2 separate regions of the Homo sapiens genome follow, and region 2 is linked to region 1. The links come from fine-mapping of genetic effects on gene expression. Tissue or cell type: anterior cingulate cortex. Region 1 holds a variant in brackets; the other region holds the start of a gene. All regions are shown on one strand. Distances are between the middles of the regions.

The links. PIP is the estimated chance that this variant, and not a neighbour inherited with it, causes the effect.
Region 2: TMEM44-AS1 starts here. The variant in region 1 is fine-mapped to the expression of TMEM44-AS1 in anterior cingulate cortex (GTEx, PIP 0.97).

The regions. Positions count from the first base shown.
Region 1 is chr3:195,045,939-195,052,204 of GRCh38, forward strand. No RefSeq gene overlaps it. Among named protein-coding and RNA genes, the nearest start is that of XXYLT1-AS1, 46 kb to the right of the region's middle. The variant T/C (reference allele first, on the strand shown) is at 3,106.
Region 2 is chr3:194,581,508-194,587,075 of GRCh38, forward strand. It overlaps TMEM44-AS1 (TMEM44 antisense RNA 1), which reads left to right and starts at 2,761. Exons shown (of 3, transcript NR_047575.1): 1 at 2,761-2,941. RefSeq lists enhancers at 2,027-2,692, 2,728-2,777 and a silencer at 2,278-2,537.

The DNA.
Region 1 (6,266 bases):
TGACAGGCTCTGACATTCAGTTCCCTTCTCCGTTCTCCTCCTCCACCTCCATCACTACAGCATGTTAAGCACTCACTGTGTGCAGGGCCCGGGATGAGAACTTTAAGTGCACTGTTTTGTCAATTCCCAAGACCACCCTGGGAGCTTCATCTTACAGGTGAGGCTCAGAGAAGTTAAGTGACCTGCCTGTGTCCCCCAATAGTAGGTGGAGGGTCGGGGCTGCTCTGTCTGATGCCACAGCCCAGCTTCTATCCAGCTCACCCTCCTGCATCTCAGGGAGGCCCACACACTCATGCGGACCTCTGGAGTTGTGGTAGGGGGGTAAAGAAAGGGGGACTAGGAGCAGGGTTCTGAAAATGCCTGTGACACTCAGGAAAGTGCCAGCTGACCCTGGCTTCCCACAGTAACCCCAGGGCCAGCAGCCAGGGCTCCTGAGCCATGCAGGAGATGCAGCCCCTATCCTCTAGGAACAAACAGGCCCATGGGGAAAAACACATGTATGTCCCTACTACAGGGCTGCCTCTGATGAGCCAGGAGAGGGGGCCCGGGAGGACTGGGGAGACTTCCTCTAGGACATGAGATGCAGGGCACCAGGCAGAAGCCAGGGACGTGCAGGTTCTTGGCGAACCTGTAGTGTGGGATGGATGGCAGGGGAGGGGCCACAGCCAGGCCACAGAGCGGCAATGACTGGAGCTTCTCAGGAGGCCAGAGCCAAAATGGCCCTCCAAGGGCAGCCAACCTGGGTGGCCAAGCGGAGGAGCCCTCTGGGTGGGGAGGAACTGCCCAGGCCTCCGGGGCAATAGGAACAGCTGCAGGTCATTCCTGGAAAAGGAGAATTAACCCAAGCCAAGCCAAGGCCTCCCTGCCTCCTGGGAAAGGCACAGTGGGGTGGAAAGAATGGAGGCTTTGGAATCAGAAAGCTCTGGACCACCCCTCAGCTCTCCCACATGCTAGGGATGTGGCTCTGAGCAAGCCATTTAATTTCTTGAAGCCTTGTGTCCCTCATCTATTGAATGGGCACAATGTCCCCTCCTTTCATGTTTAAATAACATGATGTATATCTAGCACGTGGAATTGAGCAGGCTCACAATGGCCGTTCCATCCTGTTCCACTTTATTTCAAGGCCAGTGACTTGGAAATTAACACGAAATGCCCACCACTCCTCCTGGAATGTGGCAAGTTATATTCAGTGGACCCTTCCTCCATGTAGAAGGCTCTTGGCCATCCTTGAAGATCCGTTCCAAAAGCTCCCTCCATCTTTTTTTGTTTGTTTGTTTGTTTTTGAGATGGAATCTTGCTCTGTCACCAGGCTGGAGTGCAGTGGCACAATATTGGATCGCTGCAACTTCTGCCTCCCGGGTCGGAGCGATTCTCCTGCCTCAGCCTCCCGAGTAGCTGGGACTACAGGCACGCACCACCATGCCCAGCTAATTTTTGTATTTTTTGTAGAGACGGGGTTTCACCGTGTTGGCCAGGATGGTCTCGATCTCCACCTCGTGATCCACCCACCTTGGCCTCTCAAAGTGCAGGGATTACAGGTATGAGCCTCCATGCCTGGCCACTCCCTCCATCTTTACATGGTCCATCTCTCTCCTCCAAGGCACTCCTCACATGGAGGACGTTTCTGTCTTACAGTCCATAAAACCAGAACAGATGAGAGAGTTGAAAGGGACCTCGATTCTGAGATACTCCAGAACAGCAATTGTCTCAAAAGGTTTCTGTGGATAAATACATTTGGGACATGCTAGGTTAAAAATAAACATGGCCCTCTCCTGCAGGACTGATCAGAGCCTTTAATGCACTGAGGAGCACTAAGAATCCCCAAGAAGGGGATCCAGTGTGAATGGAGTGTTTCTTAAACATTTGCCCAAGAAACTTTTTTGACCACAGAGTAAGTATCCTTTAACATGGGGATACTGATCTAAGCTCATAATTATTTTATAGATGGGAAATTGAGGCCCAGAGTGGCGAATTAATATACTCAGAGTCACACAGGGTATCAGAAGCAGAGCTGGGGCTGGAACCCAACCTCCTCCCTTTCAAGGGTCCTAGAAAATGGTGTTAGTTGTTTTCCAACAGCTGCTTGGACAAGAGGCGGCAGATACAAATGAGTCCATGGTGCCTCGTCTTGCTGCTCCCGTGGAAGGAGGTCGCACACACCACCCCACTGCCATTCTCACCTCTCTCACTCCTGATAGTGCCGGTCCCTCTGCATCCTGTTGCACTGCTCTCTGCCTCCGTTTCTTACCAGCACCTTCTGTATGGCCAGAGCTGTATGCCCAGCTCCTCCCTCAGCCTAGCTGCCGGCAGAGCTCCATGAATATGAGGAAACGCGAGTCAGTGGAGAAGGAGCCCCATCAGCCTGCAGCACTGGGGCTGGGGGTGAAAACAGAAGCAGGCAGGGGACAGCTTGGCACCAAAGCCACCTGCAGACACGAAGAGAATAAAGGTGTCCCTTTCCTCTGCAGGGAATGCTTTACTTATTCCAGCAACATTTAGGTGGATATGTTGCCCCACTTCTCAAAGCAAGCTGTCCACTTCCTATACTTAGGCAAGAGTGAGCAGACTGATACTGGGTTTCAGCTAAGAATAGGCCTTTGGCTGACCATCTAAAGTCAGGCCATCCTCGTGCTGCTCTGCTGTTTCATGCACTGGGGACATGGTCTTTAGGGTCCAGTGACTGTCAGAAAGGGAAGCAGCCTCCAGCCATACAATCAATCCATCGCCCATCCGTCCAGTCATCCGATCAACCAACCAGACACCAAACAGCTTCCTATCCACTCACCTGTACGTTCAAGGGAAACAGGCAAAGGATTGCATCAGCAGTGATATGCTGATTAACCACTTGCTCTCCGGAACAAAAAGCCCTGGCTTGTGCCATTTGCCAATTTCCATGGTGTTACTATTCCCACAATTTTAAGTTACCAACGTGATGTCACTGATGTGGAACTGGGAAAAGATGGATAGTAGCACACTCTCATATAGTATTTCTACCATACACATACAGATAACCTCAAGGGCATAGATTATAGTAAAATGTAGGATGATAATTAATAATTGATGTATTTTGAATATTGACTACCTTTGTTTTTAGGATCTAATTGA[T/C]GGTTTATCTAATTTAATTATTTATTTATTTTTGAGATGGAGTCTTGCTCTGTTGCCCAGGCTGGAGTGCAGTGGCACAATCTTGGCTCACTGCAAGCTCTGCCTCCCGGGCTCAAGTGACTCTCCTGCCTCAGCCTCCTGAGTAGCTGGGACTACAGGCACCTGCCACCATGCCCGGCTAATTTTTGTATTTTTGGTAGAGACAGGGTTTCACCATATTGGCCAGGCTGGTCTCGAACTCCTGACCTTGTGATCCGCCCACCTTGACCTCCCAAAGTGCTGGGATTACAGGCATAAGCCACCGCGCCCAGCCAATTTAATTTTTAATAATGGTTGTTTTGAACAACTGGATCACAAAATTCTTGAAAAATTAATAATCAGCTTTCCCAATATGAGGTGGCTCCAGCTCAAGGTAGATTTGGAACACAAAGGAAAAAGTTCTTCTATACTGGAAGCAGGAGTTGAAAGGCGATCACAGTGAAATAATGACAGTCAACTCCTGTAAGTCTATACTAGGGAAGGAGACCAGTCTGACTTAGCTATGTCTGAAGCACACAGTTTAAAACGATCTTTAATTCTTAAAAAAAAAAAAAAAAGCTTTTATTTGAGGTTCAGGGGAACATGTGCAAGTTTGTTATATAGACTCATGTCATGGGGGTTTGCTGTACAGATTATTTCATCACGTAGGCACTAAGCCTAGTATCAAGCACTTAGCTTTTTTGCTCCTCTCTTCCTCCCACCCTCCACCCTCAGGTAGACCCCAGTGTCTCGTTCCCTTCTTTGCGTCCATGTGTTCTCATCATTTATCTCCCACTTGTGAGAACATGGGGTATTTGGTTTTCTGTTCCTGCATGAGTTTGTTAAGGATAATGGCCTCCAGCTCCATCCATGTTTCCTCAAAAGACATGTCTCCTTCTGTTTTTTTTTTTGGCTGCATAGTATTCCATGGTGTGTATGTACCACGTTTTCTTTATCCAATCTGTCACTGATGGGCATTTAGGCTGGTTCTATGTCTTTGCTATTGTGAGTAGTGCTGCAATGAACAGTCAGGGCCATGCGTCTTTATAATACAATGATCTCTGTTCCTCTAGGTATATACCCAGTAATGGGATTGCTGGGTCGAATGGGAGTTCTGCTTTTAGCTCTTTGAGGAATCGTCACACTGCTTTCCACAATGGTTGAATTAATTTACACTCCCATCAACAATGTATAAAAAAAAAGTCTTCTTTTCTCCACAACCTTGCCAGTATCTGTTCTTTTTTGACTTTTTAATAATAGTCATTCTGACTGGTACGATTTGCATTTCTCTAATGATCAGTGATGTTGAGCTTTTTTTCAAGTGCTGTTTGGCCCCGTGTATGTCTTCTTTTGAAAAGTGTCTGTTCATGTCCTTTGCCACTTTTTTGTTTGTGTTTTTCTTATAAATTCGTTTAAGTTCCTTATAGATGCTGGATATTAGACCTTTGTCAGATGCATAGTTTGCAAACATTTTCTTTCATTCTGTAAACTGTTTACTCTGTTGATAGTTTCTTTTGCTGTGCAGAAGCTCTTAAATTTAACTAGATCCCTTTTGTCAATTTTTGTTTTGTTGCGATTGCTTTTGGCATCTTCGCCATGAAATCTTTGCCTGTTCCTATGTCCAGGATGGTATTGCCTCGGTTGTCTTCTAGGGTTTTTATAGTTTTGGGTTTTATATTTAAGTCGTTAGTCCATCTTGAGCTGATTTTTGTATGTGATGTAAGGGAGGGGTCTATTTTCAGTCTTCTGCATATGGCTAGCCAGTTATCCCAGTACCATTTATTGAATAGGGAGTTCTTTTCCCATTGCTTGTTTTTGTCAGCTTTGCTGAAGATCAGATGGTTGTAAATGTGTGGCCATATTTCTGGGCTCTCTGTTCTATTCCATTGGTCTGTGTCTGTTTTCGTGCCAGTAGTATGCTGTTTTGGTGAAGTATAGTTTGTAGTATAGCCGTGTAGTATAGTTTGAAGTTGGGTAATGTGATGTCTCCAGCTTTGTTCTTTTTGCTTAGGATTGCCTTGGCTATTCGGGCTCTTTTTTTGGTTCCATATGAATTTTAAAATACTTTTTTCTAGTTCTGTGAAGAATGTTGTTGGTAGTTTGATAAGAATAGCATTGAATCTATAAATTGCTTTGGGCAGTATGGCCATTTTAATGACATTGGTTCTTCTTAGTCATGAACATAAAATGTGTTTCCATTTGTTTGTGTCATCTCTGATTTCTTTGAGCAGTGTTTTGTAATTGATTTCTTTGAGCAGTGTTTTGTAATTCTCATTGTAGAGATCTTTCACCTCTCTGGTTGGCTATATTCCTAGGTATTTTATTCTTTTTGTGGCAATTGTGAATGGGATTGCCTTTCTGACTTGGCTCTCAGCTTGGCTGTTGTTGGTGTATAGGAATGCTCGTAATTTTCGTACATTCATTTTTTATCCTGAAACTTTGCTGACGTTGTTTACCAGTGGAATGAGCTTTTGGGCTGCGAGTATAAGGTTTTCTAGATGTAGAATCATGTCATCTGCAAACAGGGTTGGTTTGACTTCCCCTCTTCCTATTTGGATGCCCTTTATTTCTTTCTCCTGCCTGATTGCCCTGGTCAGGACTTTCAATATGTTGAATAGGAGTGGTGGGAGAGGGCATCCTTGTCTTCTGCAGGTTTTCGAGGGAAATGCTTCCAGCTTTTCCCTGTTCAGTATGGTGTTGGCTGTGGGTTTGTCACATAGATGGCTCTTATTATTTTGAGGTACATTCCTTCAATACCTAGTTTATTGTGAGTTTTTGACATGAAGGGATGTTGACTTTTCTGAAAGCCTTTTCTACATCTGTGGAGGTAATCATGTAGATTATCTTCAGTTCACGACATATTTAATTCCATTGCATTCATGTATCCTGAATAATTTCAGTCCTATTTTGCTTTCCAGGGTCAACAGTATTCAGTTAAGCACCACTTTCTTCTTGAGCAACTTTCTTCTCTCGGTTCTTCTGGCCCCTTCACTTTGTTGTTCCCCTGTTACTTCAATCTCCTTTGCTAATTCCTCCTCCTTTTCAGCTCAGTGTGTGAATGTTGGAGTGTTCGGAGTTTGGTCCTGGGCCCTCTTCTCACTATTTACACTCTCTTCTTAAGGATTTCAATTAGTCCAGAGGCT
Region 2 (5,568 bases), 460 kb before region 1:
TCATAATTTTTTTTTTTTTTTTTTTACTGTGTGTGAACTGAGAATTCATGCTGTGAGAACAGGCAAAGCCACTCAGGCACTGCAGTAGATGATTTCAAGGTAATTCATGTCTGTTCTTCAATCCATGGTTCTGTGATATTTTAGGTTTAATGGCAAAATGTCATTTCTTCATTAAAGCATAATGTTTGGGCCAGGTGTGGTGGATCATGCCTGTAGTCCCAGCGCTTTGGGAGGCCGAGGAAGGTGGATCACTTGGGGTCAGAAGTTCAAGACCAGCCTGGCCAACATGGCGAACCCCGTCTCCACTAAAAATACAAAATGTAGCCAGTCATGGTGGCACGCGCCTGTAGTCCCAGCTACTCGGGAAGCTGAGGCAGGAGAATCGCCTGAACCCAGGAGGCAGAGGTTGCAATGAGCTGAGATGGCACCACTGCATTCCAGCTTGGGCAACAGAGACAGACTCCATCTCAAAAAAAAAAAAAAAAAAGTATGTTTAATTCTGCACAACAGTGGGGTTTGGGAGCTTTATCACTTTTTTTTTGTTTGTTTGCTATTCTAAGTAGTTTTGTGAGAACATCTCATACAAATAGATCTGTTTTAAAAGTAATTTCCCGGCTGGAGTGGTGGCTTGTGCCTGTAATCCCAGTACTTTGGGGGACCAAGGCAGGAGGATCTCTGGAGCCCAGGAGTTCGGAACCAGCCTGGGCATCATAGTGAGACTCCGTCTCTGTATTTGAAAATGATAACAAAATACCAAGAAGAGATGGAAAAAGTAAATACATAAAAGCAATTTCCCGAGGACAGTGTTTTTCAGAGACTGGTCCTGGACCATCTGTAGCAGAATCACCTGAGGAGCCTGCTAAGCTTCCCAAGCCCTGCCCAGACCTAGGGAATCCTCCGGGTGGAGCCTAAGAGTCTACATTTGAGTATCAGGGCTTTAGGCTATACTGGCTAGCAGAAGGTAAGGCCCATGAAATGGCCCTTTTCATCCATGGCCATGCTGTCCTTGGGAAAGATGGTGGTGGCCGCCGTGTATGACGTCCCTTGTTCCAGCTGTGGGTTTAGAGAATCCCTCAGATTTCCTCTGGAGATTCCAGGTGCCAAGACACCTGTAGGAGGAAGGCCGGAAGGGAAAGGTCAAGTCCGGAGCAGAGGCGTGGACCGCGGCAGGCTGCTGTTGGAGCGTGCTGGGCTCAGAAGCCGGGTTCTAGCTAGGAAACTGCGGAGTGGCCAAGGAGTTCCTGGCGCGAGGCACGCCACACAACCCTCGGATGCGAAGACGGTGACCATCCATTTCTCAATACGCCAGTGGCCCTGCCGTGCTACTGAGCCTCGTCAGCCTGTATAATGGAAGCTGAAGATGATGCAGCTCAGGAAAAGCAAGTATGATCTTAAGAACCCTGTAGCTGGAAAGCATGTTCCAAATCAAACCTAATGGAGACAACTACTAGAAGGTATAAAAGTTTTTTTTTTTTTTGAGACAGAATTTTGCTCCTGTTGCCTAGGCTGGAGTGCAGTGGCGCGGTCTCAGCTCACTGCAGCCTCTGCCTCGCCGGTTCAAACGATTCTCCTGCCTCAGCCTCCCAAGTAGCTGAGACTACAGGCGCCCACCACCACGCCCGGCTACTTTTTGTATTTTTGGTAGGGACGGGGTTTCACCATGTTGGCCAGACTGATCTCAAACTCCTGACCTCAGATGATCCGCCCGCCTCACCCTCCCAAAGTGTTGGGATTACAGGCGTGAGCCACCGCGCCCAGCCCAAAAGATTTTAAAAAGGAGTCTCTTGGAGGCAAAGGGACAGAACATTATTGTTTTTCATCATAAACCTTTTGGTGCAATCTGATTTTCTTTTTTTAAACCATGTACTTGCACTATTTTTATCTCAAAAAAGGTTTTTAATGCATTTAAAAACAAAGAAAAGAATGGTTTATAATACACCGTTAGGCTTCTGGGAGGTCTGAAACACACTATGAACCGTAAAATAACCTTGTAATTATCTCCTTAAAAACCGAGTGGGGTGGGCCAGGCGTGGTGGCTCACGCCTGTAATCCCAGCACTTTGGGAGGCCGAGGCGGGCGGATCACGAGGTCAGGAGTTCGAGACCAGCCTGACCAACATGGTGAAACTCCGTCTCCACTAAAAATACAAAAATTAGCCGGGCGTCGTGGCGCGCCCCTGTAGTCCCAGCTATTCAGTCGCAGAAGAATCGCTTGAATTCGGCAGGCGGAGGCTGCAGTCAGCAGAGACCGCGCCACTGCATTCCAGCCTGGGCGACAGAGACTCCGTCTCAAATAAACAAACCAAAACTGAACTACGGAGACGCCCTCGACAGTTCTTTCCCGGCTGCGTCGCCGCTGGCTGAGGTCAGAAACGCCGGCCTTCGGCTGCGGCGGCGGCTGCGGCGGCGGGGCGGGGCCGCGGGACTCTCGCTCCTCGCGGGAGGCGGTGGCTGCGGAGTGCGCACGCGCGGAACCGCAATTCCGTTCTTCCCGGAAGTGCCCTGCTGGTGCTGGGAGTAGGGCGCAAGATGTCGGCGGATGCAGCTCCGAGGAGGTAGGCAGTGGGAGCCGGCGTTCAGTCCGGCCCGTGCCAACAGTGGTTCCTCTCTCCCCCGTAGTTCGAGGAGACCACGCGCTGCCCCTCTGGCACGATCGTGGATGAACCCCCTGGCAACTGAAATGGGAAAGGCAGCGCCCCCGACTCTGGGGACTGGACCGAAGTCCACGGTAGTGACAGCTGCCAGACCCTGAGGAGAGGACGAGAAGACCCGAGGCCTCTGCTACGAACACTGGCAGCCGATGGAAAATTCAGACGGATTTGGGACAGTATGCAGAGTTCTCCAAGCGACAGATTAACAGAGGCTCTTGAAGAATAACTGCGTAATCACGTGTTCTGCTCAAAAGAAGGCCTGAATGCCCAGTGCCTTATTTGGCTTTCAGGGTTGGTGAAAGAAAAAGCAAAGTAGATGCTTTCTAATGCTAAGTCATTTAATGTAGCACCATTCCTTGAACTTCTTTCATCTCTAAGGTCGTCCCTTTCACCTGATGATGACCTTTGGGCCATCGTACAGGCATGTGTAAACTTGGAGATCTTCCTCAACATTGCACCATATCTTGGGTTCATTCAAGGCAGAGTCTCCTTGCAAAAGCATTCTAAAACAATGTAAAGTCGAAGAGAGTAGAGCAATACCTCCATAGTTGGAAAATGTGGAGGAGGCCAATTAAGGGACAGAAAAAGAAGTGCAGAGAATCTTGGAATTGTTGCAAAATTATTCTGGAGATATTTCTAAGTCTCCTCTATCCTTTTCCTTAGTGATTAATACAGGTTTTTATATTAAGTGGACAGTAAAATCCAAACAGAAAGAGGTATATGTCGTATAATGAAGCCTATGTTCAAAGTATATCTGAAATTTGTTTTTATAATGTCTTTCTTGAGAGCTTATAAAGATGTCAGTATTCTGTGGGAAACAAATTGGCACATGCATAAAAGAGAAAAAATGAAAAAAATCAGGCCCAACTTTCAGTTTACAGATGAGGAAACTGTGACATAGAAAAGGAAATGACAAAGATCACACTGAATCAGACCTGGGAACTGGAGCCCAGCCATGCTCCTTGGCCCAGTGCCTCTTCTTATTCTAGGAGCTCATACCCCTTTGAAAGAAACATAATATGAATGTGTCTTCAAATGATGCTCATAAATCTCTTCATCATACTGAGGGAGGGAGATAAGGGGATTAGTTCTTCAGGATCTAGACAGGCTTTCAAGAAAATCTTTAGCTGGGTGCGGTGGCTCATTCGTGTAATCCCAGCGCTTTGGGAGGCTGAGGCAGGTGGATCACCTGAGGTCAGGAGTTCCAGATCAGGCTGGCCAACAGCGTCTCTACTAAAAATACAAAAATTAGCCAGGCATGGTGGCGGGAGCCTGTAATCCCAGCTACTCGGGAGGCTGAGGCAGGAGAATCGCTTGAACCTGGGAGGCGGAGGTTGCAGTGAAGTGAGATCGTGCCATTGCACTCCAGGGCAACGAGTGAAACTCCATCTCAAAAAAAAAAAAAAAATCATCATCATCATCATCTTAGCAGAGCTCTCGCTAAATGATAAAGACTTGGCAACTGATATCCTTTTTTTCAGAGAACTTAAGTAGAGACTGGATAATCACTAATTGGGGTTGTGTTTAAGGGCATTCAAACCTCTGAAATCTCTTCCATCTGCAGGTCTAATTATTTGGTTACTCTTTCAGTACATGTGTGCAGGAAGCATGGGGGGAAAGAAAACTAATCCCTCTCCAAAGTCTTCTTTGAATAGGTATTATGTTTGCATTTTCATACATGTTAGTTCACTTAGTCTTCACCATAGGCTTTCTAGGTTGGTATTATTCTTAGTCTACCTAAGAAGTTCACAAAGGTTAGGTGACATGCTCCAAGCCACACAGATGATAGGCGGCACAACCAGATGATACTACAGGTCTCCAGATGAGTGAGCCAATGATTACATAGTTTGTTCCCCAGCCCCTCCCCAGTGTAGGTAAAGTGCCTGCACTGCTCACTGGGTCATCAGAGCAAGTTGCTCCCACTGCCCTCTTGGTCTAACGGCTAGAAACAAAGCTGCAACAGAGGCCCACTCCTACTAGGAGACAGGCATTTTAATTGGCACCTCCTTACAAAGGCTCCAGTGTTCTAGAGCTTTGCATACAGGAAGATTCTCGTTGAACAATGAAGCCAAACCTCGCTTCCAAAATTCCCAGTTTGGTAGTTCACTGTGGATGAAGAGGCCGGAGACACCCTTAGACAAGCTGGGACCGTGATGATAGGAACCAGTTTGTGAAGGGAGGAGGCTGGGCTAACAGGATCTAGGGAGATAGATGATATCTGGACCTTAGGTAGTTCGTGTTACTCAAAGTCAGCAAGGTTTTTGTTGTTTTTTGAGACAGTCTTGTTATGTTGCCCAGCCTGGAGTGCAGCAGTGCGATCTCAGCTCGCTGCAACCTCCACCCCGTGGGTTCAAGCAATTCTTGTGCCTCAGCCTCCTGAGTAGCTGGGACTACAGGTGCGGGCCGCCACACTTGGCTAATTTTTTGTACTTTTAGTAGAGATGGAGTTTCACCATGTTGGCCAGGCTGGTCTTGAAGTCCTGTCCTCAAGTGATCTGCCTGCCGCAGCTTACCACAAGTGCTGGGATTACAGGTGTGAGCCACTGCACCTGGCCAAGATCATTTGATGTTCTTGGGTGAATGGCCACTTTCACCTGGATCCCACCAATTTTTGGTGCCCTAGGGAGCATGATCCAGAGTTCCCTCAAGACAGAGGATGTGCTAAAGGCAAACTCCAGAGGTCATCCTATCCCCATGCCTTCCGCCTTTCTAAAGAGAAGCTCTTCTGCCCTGCTGTTACCACTCAGTACTCTAGATTAAACCTGTTCCCCACGTTCATTCTGTACCCATGACTATATTTCTGCTTCCTGGAAAGTTGTAGCCATAGGAATGAAAAACTCACCAATCAGTTGTGGTCTTCCTGAGGCAAGTCAGTCACCTTCCTACTCTGGTATCTTCCATGGCTACCAGCTGGCCAC